Linked DNA regions of Homo sapiens. The gene in region 2 interacts genetically with the main gene of each other region. Each region holds a gene or a part of one and is shown on either strand. Other genes may lie near its edges.

Region 1 (3,500 bases), on a different chromosome or scaffold from region 2:
GCATTGCCTTTGGCTGTTAGGTATCTCTTGTAATAATCTCCTATTTATTACTTTCATTCTGTTGATTTGTTGAAGAAACAGGCATTTGAGCTGTAAGCTATTCTTTAGAAGAAATTGAACTCCTTTCTAACTGCTTTCTTCCCTTTGTGTGTGTATGTGTGTGTGTGTGTGTGTGTGTATTTAAAACAATCTATCTTTACCCTTGGTGGTAACCAATCTTTACAACTGAAATAAATAGTAAATAGTTTCTTGCCATCTGTTCACCCACATCACTGTTGTTTCATACCTCCTTTTCACAAATCCTAGCATAGGGTTTCTCACTGGATAGGCATTATCTTGTTTATTGAATGAAGAAGGAAACAGACACAAGGTGGTTTGTCCACGTAAGTGGGATTTAGTTATATGGGAATGTTTATGGAAGGCAGGCTATTACTTTGTTTCTCTTTAGTTTGGATCTTTTTTGTCTCATAGGGAGATGCAAGATACATGTGTATTTATCTTATTTCCATGTACTAGAAAATAAGATCCCAAAGGGTAGGGATCTTTCTGTTGCCTTTGCCCTGTGATGTTTCTCAAAGACCTAGAATAGTGCTTGGCACAGAGTAGGTGCCCAGTAAATGTGTTGAATTGGGTGACCCAATAAAAATAAATGCCATAAAGAAAATGTCCCAGGCTGGGCATGGTGGCTTAGGCATGTAACCCTAGTGCTTTGGAAGGCCAAGGCAGGAGGATCACTTGAGCTTAGGAGTTTGAAACTAGCCTGGGCAACATAGTGAGACCTTGTCTCTACAAAAAAATTTAAAAAGAAAAATTATCCAGGGGTAGTGTTGTACGCCTGTGGTCGCAGCTACTTGAGAGGCTGAGGCAAGAGGATTGCTTGAGCCTAGGAGTTCCAGGTTACAGTGAGCTATGATTGTACCACTGCACTCCAGCCTCGGCAACAGAGTGAGACTTTGTGTTGAAAAGAGAGAGAGAAAAAAATGTCCCAGCAACTGAGCATAGGGTATGACTTTAGGAATATATATTTTTGTTCAGTATATATTTATTTAGTATACAGTCCAGTCAATCCCTGCTCTAAGGTTAGGATAATTCTGAGTGGCTCTGGGATCCCACAATTAGCAATCGTGCTTAGATACAATTAGCAATCTTGATGCTCTGAATTTGTGTGTGTGTGTGTGTGTGTGTGTGTGTGTGTGTGTGTGTGTTGGGGAATGTGCAAAATAGATGTGGAACCCATAGTTTCCTTAGACAAGAGTAGGTCTTCTGAGCCCTGCTTAAAAAAAGAATATGGATTTAAATCTGTTGTCCATCAGCTTCTAGGTAGAATTAAAAAAAAATGTATTGATGGTAAGTGGGGTGAGGAATTTTTAAAAAGATACACTGATGTCTGGAGCCATACCTTAAAAGGATTTCTTAGAAATGGATTGAGTTTTTGGGTTGGAGAAACATAGGGCAAAGTTAGGCAGTACTTTTGTCACTTTGAGACTTTCTCTGTTCCTGTGCCTTGAAATAGAAACTCAGTTTCTATGTAATACCACTTCTCTAGTCCATTCTTCTTTAAGTGATGATTCTTGCTTTCTCTTGTAGAGCTAAAGTTGCAGACAAGATCCAGCTCATCAATAATATGCTGGACAAAGTCAATGAGATGATTATTGGTGGTGGAATGGCTTTTACCTTCCTTAAGGTGCTCAACAACATGGAGGTAGGAAACAAATGCCAAGTGGATGTGAAATAGCTCTCCATGATAATAGCAGGTTGTATAAATGTAAAAAGAAAACAGTCTTTTGACATGAGCCCTGAAAATTCCCATTTTTATTTATTTTGGCAAGTCTTTCGTCTTTGCATTGTTCCTTTATATTGTATTGTGTCTGGTTCCTGTCTGCTTTGTGAGGCAGTCTTGTTCTTAGTATAGATGCTGACCTCCATCATTTTGGCTCCCCTGTGTAGATTGGCACTTCTCTGTTTGATGAAGAGGGAGCCAAGATTGTCAAAGACCTAATGTCCAAAGCTGAGAAGAATGGTGTGAAGATTACCTTGCCTGTTGACTTTGTCACTGCTGACAAGTTTGATGAGAATGCCAAGACTGGCCAAGCCACTGTGGCTTCTGGCATACCTGCTGGCTGGATGGTGAGTCACTTGAGTGGGTTGGTAGTGTGAGTGAACAGAAACTCTGTGGTGTCATTTATTCATTGATTCAGCCAATCAACAAGCATTTTAAAACAATCTCTATAGGAGATCTGTCAGAGAGGGCTCTGCATGTTGCAGTGAGTCCCTCATGGAAGAATCCATGGGAGAAAAGCAGTGCTATTGGATTACTGGCCTTCAGTAATGCAGTAATGTGTTGCAAAACTTTGTTGTTGTTGTTTTTTTTTTTTTTTTTGAGACAGAGTCTCGCTGTGTCACCAGGCTGGAGTGCAGTGGCATGATCTCGGCTCACTGCAACCTCTGCCTCCCAGGTTCAAGTGATTCTCCTGCCTAACCCTCCCCAGTAGCTGGGACTACAGGTGTGCACCACCATGCCCAGCTAATTTTTGTATTTTTCATAGAGACGGGGTTTCACCATGTTGGTCAGGATGATCTCAATCTCTTGACCTCATGATCCACCTGCTGCGGCCTCCCAAAGTGCTGGGATTACAGGCGTGAGCCACTGTGCCCGGCCCATTTTTAGTTTTATCTGTTTTTTCTTCATCTGTTTAATGTGTATTAAGTACTTACTGCGTACTGGAGATAGTGTCATGTACTTTCATGGTTTGGGTTGTTTTGGATTATGTTGCTATCTAGAAAGCTATATAAGAAAACTTTCTCATATGAAAAAATTAAGTATACTGATTACAAGCAGGGAGAAATGTAAGTGTATATTAAAGACTAATATAGTTGATTTTAGGGTGCTCCAAATATCATTTTGATTGCTGTATAAAATTGTATCATGTTTTTACATGCTAGTTTGCTTATTTTTCTTTTCAGGCATTCACGTATTATTTAGTTCAGTGTTTCTCAAAGTATGTTCCTAAGACCAGCAGTATCAGTATCATTTTTGGAACTTGTTAAAAATGCAAGTTCTTGGGTCCCACCCCAGACCTACCGAATCAGGAACTGAGGGTGGGGCCAAACAGTCTGTTTGAATAAGCCCTCCTGGTGATTCTCATGCATGGCAAAGTTTGAGTACTACTGATCTAGTTTACTGTCATTCCCAACACTATTGACATCTGTTGTTTTGTGGGGGACTGTTGAATTGTAAGGTTGTTTAAAGCATCCTTGGCCACTAGATGCCAGTAGCACCCTCCCAAGTTGCAACAACAATATTTCTAGACATTGCCACATGCCTATCTATTATGAAGGGGCAGAACTGACCTGGTTGAGAACCATTGATCTAGTTTTCACTAACATAAATAGTGTGGCTAAGAATGTCTTTATTAAATAACTTTTGAGGTTTTCCGTTAGACTTGATCTTCCATACAGTAGAATTTTTGAGTATAAAGGGCATGAACAGGTTTATAAAG
Region 2 (4,946 bases):
CAAATTTAGCAGTTTCTTAGACTTTGTCTTCCTTTTTATCTGTCACCACCTCCACCCCTTAGGAAATGTAGGGTTTAAATTAAAGGGTGAACAAAAACATGTGTTCTACCTTGTCTTTATATATTATAATCTGGAATCTAATTTCCAGTAATCTGAAAAATAAACTCTAATGGATGGTTGCTTTTTAGTTTCGTGTGGCTGATCAAAGAAAGAAGGCATACGCAGATTTCTACAGAAACTACGATGTCATGAAAGATTTTGAGGAGATGAGGAAGGCTGGTATCTTTCAGAGTGTAAAGTAATCTTGGAATATAAAGGTAATATGGTTATTTGAAGTTACTTAAAAAAAAATTTCTAATTGTGGTAAAATGCAAATACAGGTGACTGTCCCTCACAATGTTTAGACTTAAGATTTTTTGACTTTACGATGGTGTGGAAGTGATACACATTTGGTAGAAACCATACTTTGAATTTTGATCTTTGTCCACATGAGCAATAAGTGGCACAATACTTTTGTGATGTGGGGGAGCACCAATGACCACATCCCCCAGTCAGAAACATAATCACAAGGGTAAACAGCTGATGCTGTACTCTGTAGTGTTGTGTGAGATACTCAGTGTTTTATTATAAGCTAGGCTTTGTGTTAGATGATTTTCTTCAGCTGTAGGCTAACATAAGTGTTCTGAGCACATTTAAGGTAGGGAAGGCTAAGCTATGATGTAAGTTAGGTGTATTAAATGCATTTTCAACTTAAGATATTTTAAACTTATGATGGTTTTATCAGAATGTAACCTGATGGTAAGTTAAGGAGCATCTATAATATAAAATTTGCCATCTTAACCATTTTTAATTGTACAGTTTAGTAGTGTTAAGTTCATTCACATTGTTGTGCAACCAGTCTCCAGAACTCGTCATCTTACAGAATTGAAACCCTATATCCATTAAGCAACCCATTCACACCTCCACTCAGACCCTGGCAGCCACTGTGTTACTTTCTAAGAATTTGGCTACCCCAGGCATCTCATAAGTAGAATCACACAGTATTTGTTTTCTTGTGACTGGCTTATTTCACTTAGCGTAGTGTACTCAAGGTTCATCCATGTTACAGCATGTGTCAGAATTTCCTTTCTTTTTAAAGCTGAATGATCTATTTTAGTTGTGTCACATTGTTATCCATTCATCCATCAGTAGATGCTTGGGTTGCTTCCACTTTTTGATTGTTGTGAGTGATGCTGTGAACCTAGGCATGCAAATATTCCTTCAAGGCCTTGCTATCAATTCTTTTGGGGTATATTCAAAAGTGGAATTCCTGGATCATATGATTTTTAATTTCTTAAGAAACTGCCATACCCTTTTCCATAGTGGCTGCACCATTTTACACTCTTTCCATCCTCCCCAACACTTGTTAATTTTTTTTTTAACAGGGTCTCCCTCTGTCACCCAGGCCGTAGTGCTGTAGTGCGATCATGGCTCACTGCAGCCTCAACCTCCCAGGCTCAAGGGATCTTCCTGCCTCAGCCTCCCAAGAAGCTGGCACTATAGGCATGTGCCACCACACCTGGCTAACTTCTTTATTTTTAGTAGAGACAGGGTTTCACCATATTACCTGGGCTGTGCTTGAATTCCTGGGCTCAGGCGATCCGTCCACCTTGGCCTCCCAAAGTGTTGGGATTACAGGCGTGAGCCACTGTGCCTGGCATAATTTTGGTATTTTTTGATAGTAGCCATCCTAATAGGTATGAGGTGGTATCATTGTGGTTTTGATTTGCATTTCCCTGATTATTTGTGTTCTTGAGCATCTTTTCATGTACTTATTGGCCATTTGTATGTTATCTTTGGAGAAATGTTTATTCAGTTCTGCTCATTTTCAAATTTGGTTTTTTGTTTATTGGTTGAGTTGTTCTGTATATATTCTGGATATTAACCCCTTATCAGATATGATTTGTAAATATTTTCTCCCATTTCATAGGTTGCCTTTTCACTCTGTTGTGTCCCTTGATGCACAGAAATTTTGATGTCGAATTTATTTTTATTTTTGTTCTGTGTGCTTTTAGTGTCATATTCAATAAATCATTGCCAAATCCAATGTCATGAAGTCTTTTTTATGTGTTCTTCTAAGACTTTTATAGTTTTAGCTCTTATGTTTAGATCTTTGATTCACTTGAATTTTTGTGTAGGGTGTAAAGATCCAACTGTATTCTTTTACATGTGGTATCCAGTTTTCCCGAAATCATTTAAGATTGTCCTCTTCCATGGAGTGGTCTTGGTACCTTGGTGAAATCATTTGACTCTAAATGCGAGAGTTTATTTCTGGGCTATTTCTTTAGTCTGTATGTCTGTCTTCGGGGCAGTACTACACTGTTTTGATTACAGTAGTCCGTTTTATCTAAGATATGTTTCAAGACCCCTCTAGTGGATTCTTGAAACCACAGATAGTACCAAACCCTGTATATATTATGTTGTTTTTCGTGTACGTACATACCTATGATGACGTTTAACTCATAAATTAGACATAGTAAGAGATGAGCAACAATAACAAAATAGAACAATTGTAGTGTATAGTAATAAAAGGTGAATGTGATCTCTCAATATCTTGCTGTACTGTACTCACCTGTTTTTGAACCACAGTTGACTGTGGGTAGAACTAAAGCGGTGGAAGGTTAAACCACAAATAAGGGATGACTGCTACACTGTAGCTTTGTAGTATGCTTTAAAATCAGTAAGTGTGAGTCCTCTAGCTTTGTTCTTTCTTTCACCCCACCCGGAGGGTGCTCTAGCTATTTGTGGTTCCTTAAGAGTCTGTGAATTTTAGGATGGATTTTTCTATTTCTGTAAAAATGCCATTGGGATTTTGATAGGGATTGCATTAAATCTGTAGATTACTTTGGTAGTATGGACATCGTAACAATATTAAGTATTCCAATCCATGAACACAGGATGTCTTTCCTCTTATTTGTATCTTTAATTTCTTTTAGCAGTAGTTTGCATCTTTAATTTCTTTTAGTGTTGCTACTCTCTTACTATGCCTAATTTATGAGTTAAGCTTTATTATAGGTATGTGTATATATAGGAAAAAACGTAGCTGTATAGGGTTTGGTACCATCCATAGTTTCAGTAATTCACTGGAAGGGTCTTGAAACATATCACCTTGGATAAAAGGAGACTACTATAATCAAAACAATGTGTCCAAGGACACACATTTCTTTCCGTACTTTTCCTTTATTTTATAGTGACATGTTTCAGTTTCCTTCTTACTTCCTTATGTGTATATTCTGTATTTTCTTTGTGGTTACCATGGGGATTGCATGAATGAGATTTGCTAATTTTTTTAGCAGTATACAGGTATATATCTGTTTCATCTAGGTCAGTGTTTAAGTCTTTCATATTCCTGATTAAATACATTCCTAAGTATTATTTTTGGTGCTATTATAAATAGAATTATTTTCTTAATTTCCTTTATTAGGCATTCCTTTATTTCCTTCATTGTTGGTGTGTAGAAAGAGCTGATTTTTGTATCCTCCAACTTAGTAGAATTCATGTATTCTGACACTTGTGTGTTAGAAATCTTTAGGGTTTGCTGGAGGTAAGATTATATGATCTGTAAACAGATAGTTTTACTTACTCCTTTCCTTTTTGGATGTTGCTTATTCCTTCTTGCCTCATTGCTCTGGCTAGGACTTCCAGTACTACAATGAATAGAAGTGGCAAGAGCGGGCATCCTTGTCTGGTTCTAGGTATTAGAGGAAAAGCTTTCACGTTTTCCATGTTCAGTATACTAGACTTGTCCTTTTTGGCCATTGTTGGGTTGAAGTACATTCCTTCTGTTGATAGTTTTGATCATGAAAGGATGTTGAATTTTGTCAAGTACTTTTTCTGCATTTTTTGAGATGTGTTTTTTATCCTTCATTCTGTCAGTGTGGTATGTCACATCTATTGATTTGCATATGTTGAACTATCCTTGCATCCTAGGGATAAATCCCACTTAATCATAGTACATGATTCTTTTAATGCGATGTCAAATCTGGTTTGCTAGTGTTTTGTTGACGATTTTTGCATCTGTGTTAAAGGATTTGGCCTATAGTTTTCTCGTGTGTTTGTCTTTGATATCAGGATAATGCTGGCCTTATAGAATGAATGTGGAAATGTTCCCTTTTCCTCACTGTTTTTGGAAAAACTTGAGGAGGATTGGTGCTGGTTTCATAGAGGGCTGGGCATGGTGGCTCATGCCTGTAATCCCAGCACTTTGGGAGGCTGAGAAAGGAGGATCACTATAATCCAGAAGTTAGAGATCAGCCTGTGCAACATGGCAAGACCCCATCTCTACCAAAAAAAAAATATATATATATATATATACACACACACACACACACACATACATATATACACACACACACATATATATACACACACACAGATATATATATAGTTAGCTGGGTGTGGTGGTACATGCCTGTAGTCTCAGTTACTTGGGAGGCTGAGGCAGGAGGTTCACTTGAGCACAGGAGTTTAAGGCTGCATAAGCTATGATCACACCACTGCACTCCATCCTGGATAACAGAATATGAGACCCTGTCTCAAAAAAGTTTGGTAGGATTCACCATATGGTCTTGGACTCTTGTTTTTTGAAGTTTTTGGCTACTGATTAAAAATTCCTACTAGTTATAGACGTTCAGATTATTGTTTTCCTGATCCAGTCTTGGTTAGATTGTGTTTCTAGAGTGGGTGTGGTAGCTCATAAGGCCTGTAATCCCAGCACTTTGGGAGACCAAAGCAGGTGAATTGCTTGAGCCCAGGAGTTTGAAACCAGCCTGGGCAACATGGCGAAACCCCGTCTCTACAAAAAAAATACAAAAAATAATGTGGGTGTGATGGCACACGCCTGCAGTCCCAGCTACCTGGGAAGATTACCTGAGCCTGGGAGGTCAAGGCTGCAGTGAGCAGTGATT
Region 3 (3,500 bases), on a different chromosome or scaffold from region 2:
TTGGTAAATATTACCAAATTACCGTCTAAAAAGTCCCAGTTTTCATTCCTTCATATTGTGCATGAGAGTGCCCATTTCTCTGAACCCTTGCCAGAGTTAGATTTTTAAAAATCTTTTTGATCTGTGCACAACTGATCAGAGAGTACAATTTGTTTTTATCCGTGATATGTATGTCCTTGTCTTGGAAATCAAACATAGCTTCAAATGATAATTTGCTGCTCTTTGGGAGATTTTTTAAAATATTCTTTTGGGTTTTGAAAAGTAGTCTTGTTAGAATAAGTTGAATAGTGTTCCAAGGGGACAATTTTGAAGGGCACGTTGAAGAGATGCTCTTGTATTACGAAAAAAAGACAATCCTTTATTTATAATCACACACTTACACCTGGCACATTCATATATGACTTATCTCTACAACAAAATTGAATAGTCCTTGGAAGTTAGACAGCAACATTTATTGAACTCCTGCCATGTATAACAGCCTTTGTTGCCAGAAGGAATATGGTGTTATGAACCCTGTCCTTGTGGAACTTATAGTCTAAGTCTTTAAGTACATGTAATTGGAGGTAAAAAGTGACATACACAATAATATGTTTTCTGGGGCAGTCCTGTGGGAGTTCCATATCAGAGCTGGTAGGGAATAAATATTTTTTGAATGAATCATACAGATTCCTTAATGTATGAAGTCATAGTGTCCTAATAGAGAAGATATCTGCTGCTGTTGAGGCATTTGTTCTGGGAGGATAAAGCTGGGAAGTTGGTATGTGCCTTCAGAAGTGTTTGCCCATTCCTCTTATCTTCAGAAGTGATCTATTTCCCTAGAATAGATTTTATTGAGGGCACTTCAGTATACTTTTGTCACTTTGCCTTTTGCCATTTGACTTTTTGGTGCTAGAACACCTATTAAATATCTGATCACTTCTCGGCCTTTTGGCTAAGATCAAGTGTATTAAATGTGTGACTTCTCATTAAAGCCCTTGTTTTTGCAAGGGAGAACTATTCAGTATGAATTTGAAAGCACCTGCCTCTCTACTGGTGACTAGCTGCCTTCCTTTCATGCCAGGAAGATGGCTTATTGTGATTGCTGTAGAAGGATGTTTGCAGCTCTGATCTGTGATACTATGCTTCCACAAATACTCTCATTTATAAATAAATGTGTGGTGTATACATTTTTTATGGTTATAGAGAAGTTTGTATTTTTACAAGTGAAATTTAAATGCTCATTGTTAATTTCATATTTTTTTCTGATCAATATCCTTAAAATGGTAGATTGACACTAATACTTCAGGGACCAGATATCTCAGAAATTTGATGCTTAAAGGAATCCCATGGTATTAGGAGATGTACTCGGTCTGTATTAGGGTATTAACTTTTTGATTCAGGGATACCTTACTCACCTTTGCATTTCCCATTAGCCTCAGAGTAAAATAAGTACTCAAGGAATATATTAAGAGGAAAAAAGTGAAGATTAATGTAATTTGCTTGATTAGAGATGCTCCTCAGTTAAATTTCTTTTTAATCTCAGTATCTTTATTTTAAGACCCACTTTAAGACACATCAGCAGAATGATGTGTTTCCAGACAACAATTTTTAAAACCTTAGTTAACTGTAAGGATTTATTAGCTAGATTTCCTCTCTATGTTCCATTTCTAGAAGAAACAGATTACAAGAAAATCTGGTGTTATAAGTCCTTCTGAAAGTAAGTATCTTCTAGGACTGTTCCTGGAAACATAGTCAATCCAGCTTTCATATTCCTTGTACTTCTCAACAATTTTGCAGGGGCAGGGAAGTCACTCAGATGACTTGCAGTGTCCTCTATCACAAAGGAAGCACAGACTTATTTTATGTGCCACGAACTTACTAAGACAGATGGGATATTGACATATTTTAGGACTACTTTAAGCAAGAATTGATCATTGAAATTATTGATTTTTTATCATTATTATTAATAGCTAACATTTATTTAATTACATGCCATGTATTTTTTTGAGCATTTTACCTGCATTATCTCCTGAAGCTTCCATTTTATAAATGAAGGAAAAAAAAAAGGGAGGCTCAAAAAGGTAAAGTATTTTGACTGAGATCTTATAGCTAACGAGTAATAGGGCCAGGGTTTGAACCCTTTCTGTCTCTAGGGCCTAGTACCTAACCGTTGTCCTGCAATATTTTCTTTGTTGAGTATTTTCACTTAACTGAGAGGGTGCTATCTTGTTACTAGAACAAATATTATTACAGTGTTTTTTGTATGTTTTGTTTTGTTTTGTTTTTAGAAGACAGGGTCTCACTATGTCACCCAGGCTGGAGTGCAATGGTGCAATCATAGCTCACTGCAGCCTTGAATGCTGGGGCTCAAGTGATCCCCCCACTTCAGCCTCATGAGTAGCTATGACTACAGGCATGTCCCACCATGCTCAGCTAATTAAAAAATAATAATTATTATATATATATATTTTTGTAGAGATAGAGTTTTGATTGTGTTGCCCATGTTGGTCTTGAACTCCTGGACTCAAGCAGTCCTCCTGCCTCGGCCCCCCAAAGGGTTGAGAGTACAGGTGTGAATCACTGTGCCCGGCCTCATTACAGTTTTAACAGGACTGAGGAAGCAGTTTTTATAATTAAGTTTCTAAAATAAGAAGTTGATTGTATAGTAGGTAATTTTGATTATAAATTTTATTTTAAAAACACAGGCCAGGCATGGTGGCTCACGCCTGTAATCACAGCACTTTGGGAGGCCAAGGCGGGCGGATCAACTGAGGTCGGGAGTTTGAGACCAGCCTGACCAACATGGAGAAACCCCATTTCTACTAAAAATACAAAATTAGCTGGGCATGGTGGCGCATCCCTGTAATCCCAGCTACGCGGGAGGCTGAGGCCGGAGAATCTTGAACCTGGGAGGTGGAGGTTGCAGTGAGCCAAGATCACGCCACTGCACTCCAGCCTGGGCAACAAGCGCGATACCCTGTCTCAGAAAAAACACAACAACAACAACAACAAAAACACAATACTATCTTGACAGGAAAATATATTCATTGAGCAACATTAATTTGGTGGTACATCATTTTTATAAAACCCCTAGTAACTCTGAAAGCATTGTCTGTGCCCTTTTAAACACTTCACAATCATATGACAGGAGGGGAAATGTAAACTGATGAAATAGAGTTTTGTACTTTAGCACATCATTTGAGGAAAATACAACTTGTTCCCCCATGACCTTATAAAGTAATGAGAAGATTGCATGATAGTGAAGGGAGAAAGAAAGGAAAATATATTGTTTTAACAGTAGTTATGTGCTTCGAGTGGCCTGACTTGTAAGGAGTTGCTGTGATTTGTTTTGCAAGAGTGCAAGCCTTCCTTTCTGATTCTATAGAGATCTCATTGACTAGAGCTGCAGCCCCTAGTGCTTATAAGGATTTCCTTTCAGCTTAGACTAAATCCTTTTAAGCTCCACAGAACAGGGATAAATGTTGATTTTCAAGGTGGCATTTTACTACACTGAATGTGTC
Region 4 (4,267 bases), on a different chromosome or scaffold from region 2:
CGGCTCACTGCAACCTCCGCCTCCCGGATGCCAGCGATTCTCCTGCCTCACCTGCCTCAGCCTCCCGAGTAGCTGGGATTACAGTTGCCCGCCACCACGCTAGGCTAATTTTTTGTATTTTTAGCAGAGACGGGGTTTCACCATATTGGTAAGGCTGGTCTTGAGCTCCTGACCTCAGGTGATCCACCCGCCCCAGCCTCCCAAAGCTCAGGGATTACAGGCAAAACCACCGCGCCCGGCCTCGGTTGCACTCCTGAAACACTTCTTACTTCCTCTTCATCTAACTCCTACTCATTCTACAGTCCTCAGAATAAGCATCTCATCTTCTGGAGGACTATTTTCGATTCCATAAATTCAGTTAGGTAAAACAATCTGTCATTCATCTATCAGAACATCCATTACCTTTTATTATATTAACTTTTGCTATCGTCTATCTCTCCAGATAGATTTTAAGGTATGAAGGCAGAGGCCAAGTTTCTCTCGTTCAACACTGTATACCAGGGACGGGTACAATGCCAGCTTAAACTAATAGCTCTGCACCCTGGGACCCAGAATCTGAACAAGTGAAGTTGTTTTCTTCCTATCTAGAGGCTGAAGCGCCCTACTGTTTTACATACACAATTAGATCTCCTTGACGACTAAGGCAATTTCTCAATCAAACCTGAAGAAGCAAACAGGTGGTGGAGTCTCCTGCCATTTTCCGCCCTGTGAGTGACTGCTCATCAGAGTTTCTCACATCAATCGCACTGGGAAAAATGCGGCCCCATTCACCCACTAGTGGCTTTGGTAGCTCAGCAAGTGGACCTCAAGAGTGACGATGCACACAAGACCAGAAAGGAGTGACTGGAGCCCCTGGGTCCTCAGACTGAGACCAGAAGGTTCGGGCCGAGGCGAAGGACAAAGATTTTTATTTTCCCACGTACCAAGCGAGGTGGCGCTGCCTCTGTGCTGTCCCGCCCGCCCTGGGACGCAGGCTGGCGAGGACGGTGGGACCCTGAACTGCACGTGAGCGTCCTTGGGGTCGAGGACGCGCCTCTGCCTGCTGGGAAAGCTCCGGGCGTCCGAAGCAGCCGGCGAAGTTGTAGCGGCGCCCCAGCGGGGTCGCTTGGTGCAGGGTTCACAGCCGGGGCCCGCATTCATGCTGGGACCAGCAGCGCACTGTCCCCGGGCCGGCCCGGGCGGAGAGCCTCATTCACTAACCCTGAGAGAGATGGACTGCGCCTCCTTCTCAGCGCCTGCCTGCACCATTCCCTCTCTGCCGCTGCCTGCTTCTGCAATTGCTGATCCGCCGGCCTCCCAAGTCAGGCCGTAAACACTCGCCTGCCTTCCCTCTTCCACTGGCACCCCACCTGCCTCAATGCGCCGCTTTGATTCGGGATTCGTTCACTTTCCCACCACCGGAAAGCTGCCGTCAGGCGCTTCCGGCTTCCGGGGCGCACACTGCCGCAAAGCGGAAGTGTGGCGCTTAACGGGAACCGGCGCCCGGAATGTCAGCGTGTGAAGTAGGCGCTGGCAACGCGGGGTTACCCGCTGTTATTGAGGAGTAACGGCCCAGCGGACCACCCAGGCTTGAGGCAGCGGCGGGAACCACTCGGTTTGCTGCGATACCATGGAAGGAGGCGGGGGAAGCGGCGACAAAACCACAGGGGTATTGGCCGGCTTTTTCGGAGCCGGCGAAGCAGGTTACTCGCACGCGGATTTGGCTGGCGTCCCGCGTAAGTATGGGGCCTAGCTTGCGATTATTTCTGACTGGTTCTTGCGTTTACACTAAAGTTGCGCGTCCCATGTTTTATGTTGTTGGTTTTTTTTTCCTTGCTGGCGTTTACAAGCTTAAGTACCAGTGGTGGGGTTAGTGTATCTGCATGGCTGCTCTTTCAAGATAGAAAGGCCTAAAAAAGGGCCACGGATCTCCTGGGGAAGCTGTCCGTGATTGACCTGGACTCGCGAGATGATGCATGTTTTCTTAGGTTTATATCCAAGCCTCGTACGTTTTGTGTGTGGTGGGCCGTGTGATTGACCCTTAAGAGTAGAGCCCAGCTTTGGGAGTAAATGTATTCCAAATAGCAAGCCCGTAGTTAACTTTTTAGTACACAGTGACATATTCTGAGCCTCCAAGTAGCCGTAAGGGCAGAATATTCAGTAATATTGCATGTAAGTGAGAAATAAATATGACTTGGGACAGGCTAGGAAACCTTCTTTAGGAGCTAGGAAGTAAGCTGAACTTTAAAGGTGATATATAGACATGAAGAAAGAAGCCAGGTAAGAATTATAGGAAAGGAAATAGGCAACATCAAGGTATACAGAGGCATAAATATCTTGCCTTTGCCTCTCCTCGGTCTTGTGAATATGTTTTCCAGAACTTTGGTACTTTGTAACTGTGGTTGTTCAACTAGATAAATAGAACTTGGACCTAAAGATAGGCAGTTGGTCGTGGATAAAGCCTTTACGAAAGTACTTTCTTTTTAGAGAATCCTTGTAATATTTCTCTAGGTATTTTATACTAAGGAACAACAACAACGAAATATGTTCAGACTGACTCTAGTGCAAAAAAATATAAAAGACCTTTCATTTCCCTGGTGTCACCTTTGTCAAAAAACTGAATCTACAACACATGGTGTTTTGTTTCGTTTTTTTTTTGTTTGTTTTTAGAGTCAGGACCTCGTTCTGTCACCCATGTTGGGGTGCGGTGGCATGATTATAGTTCACTGAAGCCTGGCACTCCTGAGCTCAAACAATCCTCCCCTCTAAGCCTCCTAAGTAGCTGGGAATCTAGGTACGTACCACCACACCTGGCTAATTTTTAAAATTTTTTTTTTGACTTATTGTGGAGATGGGGTCTCCCTGTGTTGTCCAAGCTGGTCTCAAACTCTCGAACTCAGGCCATCCTCCTGTCTCGGCCTCCCAAAATGCTGGGATTCCTAGGCCTGAGCTACTACTTTACCTGTTTAGAACACAGTTTCATATTAATCTTAGTATTTCTGAGTTTCAGAGCACAAAGGGCATATACACTTCCTTAATGTGACAATATTGTTAAATTAATTTGATTAAGATTTGAAGGTAAATTGGGGGACCAGGGAATGAACACCATTTACTGAGCTTTTACAGTGTGCTAGCTACTTTTCTGGGGGCAGGACTATAGTGGTTTTTGTGGGTTTTTTTTTTTTTTTTTTTTTTTGAAAAGAGGACCCTTGCGCTCACAGAGCTTACATAATACTGAGGTAAACCAACAAACATAAATTAAAACATTGCCTTTAGTGATAAGTGCTGTAAAGGGAATAAAGCAGAGTCATGAGATTGTGATGGAAGCAGGATGCCATTTTAGAGCGGATTAGGGAAAACATCTCAAGGGAGTTGACATTTGAGCTGTGACCCAAATACAGTACAAATGCTTGGGAGGCAAGTATCCAGGAAAATAGCTAGTGCAAATGTCCTGAAACAAAACAAATTTGGCATGTTTAAGGAACAGCTCTTAGGCCAGTCTGTCTTCGTAGTTACAAGGGAGTTGGATCAATTGAAGCTTGTGAAATCAGAGAGGTAGGGAATGACAGCTAATGTAGGATTTTGTAAGTTATGGTAAGGAGTTTCGATTTTCTTAAGAAAAATCACGTAGTTGCTATGTAGACAGTGAATTGAAGGGGTAAGAGAAAGCAAGGAGTTAGGAAATTGTTGCTGTGAGATATGATGGTTGGACTAGGATGGTAGCAATAGAGAAGATAAGTAACACAATTCAAAATGGGTATTAAAAATAGAACAAGCAGGACTCCTAATTGATGAAAAGATAGAGGCATGGGTGATGCATAGGTTTGTAAATAACTGCTGAGATACAGAAGGATCCAAAGATGATAGGTTTTACTGTTTTCAATGTTAGTGAATTCAGGTCTGGCCCTCTCAAAGTTTGTGTTTTCTTTTGCACAGACCCACATACCTGTGGTAATGACCCAAGGATTCTCAACCTTGCCACAGTAAATCAATCGTTAATAGTAATATGTGAAGGAACTGCCTTGAAATAGTTAGATACAACATGTACACAGTCAGAAAACCCAACCCAACCACTGTTTTTCCCATGGAATTGATTAGTCTTTTCTCAGTCTTATTTTGTAATTTATATAGTCACCAAGCATTCTTGTAGTAAAGTGAAAGAAATTAGCTTTGTAAATGGCCTGGACTACACTTCCTGTAAGTTCAAAAATCAGATCTATGACACTGCGATTATCTTATTGGTGTAAAAGCCTGAGCCACCAGTGGAAGACCTGGTTTGGGATTGAGG

What was found. Genes that interact genetically often act in the same process or in processes that back each other up.
Region 1: changes in COX6C (region 2) and PGK1 together harm fitness more than expected from each alone (negative genetic interaction), as found in Homo sapiens cells (one large-scale study listed by BioGRID).
Region 3: changes in COX6C (region 2) and MAPKAP1 together harm fitness more than expected from each alone (negative genetic interaction), as found in Homo sapiens cells (one large-scale study listed by BioGRID).
Region 4: changes in COX6C (region 2) and TIMM23B together harm fitness more than expected from each alone (negative genetic interaction), as found in Homo sapiens cells (one large-scale study listed by BioGRID).

Annotation. Positions count from the first base shown.
Region 1 is NC_000023.11:78,121,248-78,124,747, forward strand, and holds part of PGK1 (phosphoglycerate kinase 1), read left to right. Parts: intron 1-1,587; coding exon 1,588-1,702; intron 1,703-1,947; coding exon 1,948-2,127; intron 2,128-3,500. UniProt on the Homo sapiens protein: Catalyzes one of the two ATP producing reactions in the glycolytic pathway via the reversible conversion of 1,3-diphosphoglycerate to 3-phosphoglycerate.
Region 2 is NC_000008.11:99,882,861-99,887,806, reverse strand, and holds part of COX6C (cytochrome c oxidase subunit 6C), read left to right. Parts: intron 1-188; coding exon 189-302; 3' UTR 303-317; intron 318-4,946. UniProt on the Homo sapiens protein: Component of the cytochrome c oxidase, the last enzyme in the mitochondrial electron transport chain which drives oxidative phosphorylation.
Region 3 is NC_000009.12:125,672,709-125,676,208, reverse strand, and holds part of MAPKAP1 (target of rapamycin complex 2 subunit MAPKAP1), read left to right. Parts: intron 1-911; exon of another isoform or gene 912-1,055; intron 1,056-3,500. UniProt on the Homo sapiens protein: Component of the mechanistic target of rapamycin complex 2 (mTORC2), which transduces signals from growth factors to pathways involved in proliferation, cytoskeletal organization, lipogenesis and anabolic output.
Region 4 is NC_000010.11:49,940,586-49,944,852, forward strand, and holds the start of TIMM23B (mitochondrial import inner membrane translocase subunit Tim23B), read left to right. Parts: upstream 1-1,467; 5' UTR 1,468-1,609; coding exon 1,610-1,715; intron 1,716-2,649; exon of another isoform or gene 2,650-2,773; intron 2,774-4,267. Other genes in the region: PARG (poly(ADP-ribose) glycohydrolase), read right to left, coding at 924-1,140. UniProt on the Homo sapiens protein: May participate in the translocation of transit peptide-containing proteins across the mitochondrial inner membrane. the PAM complex.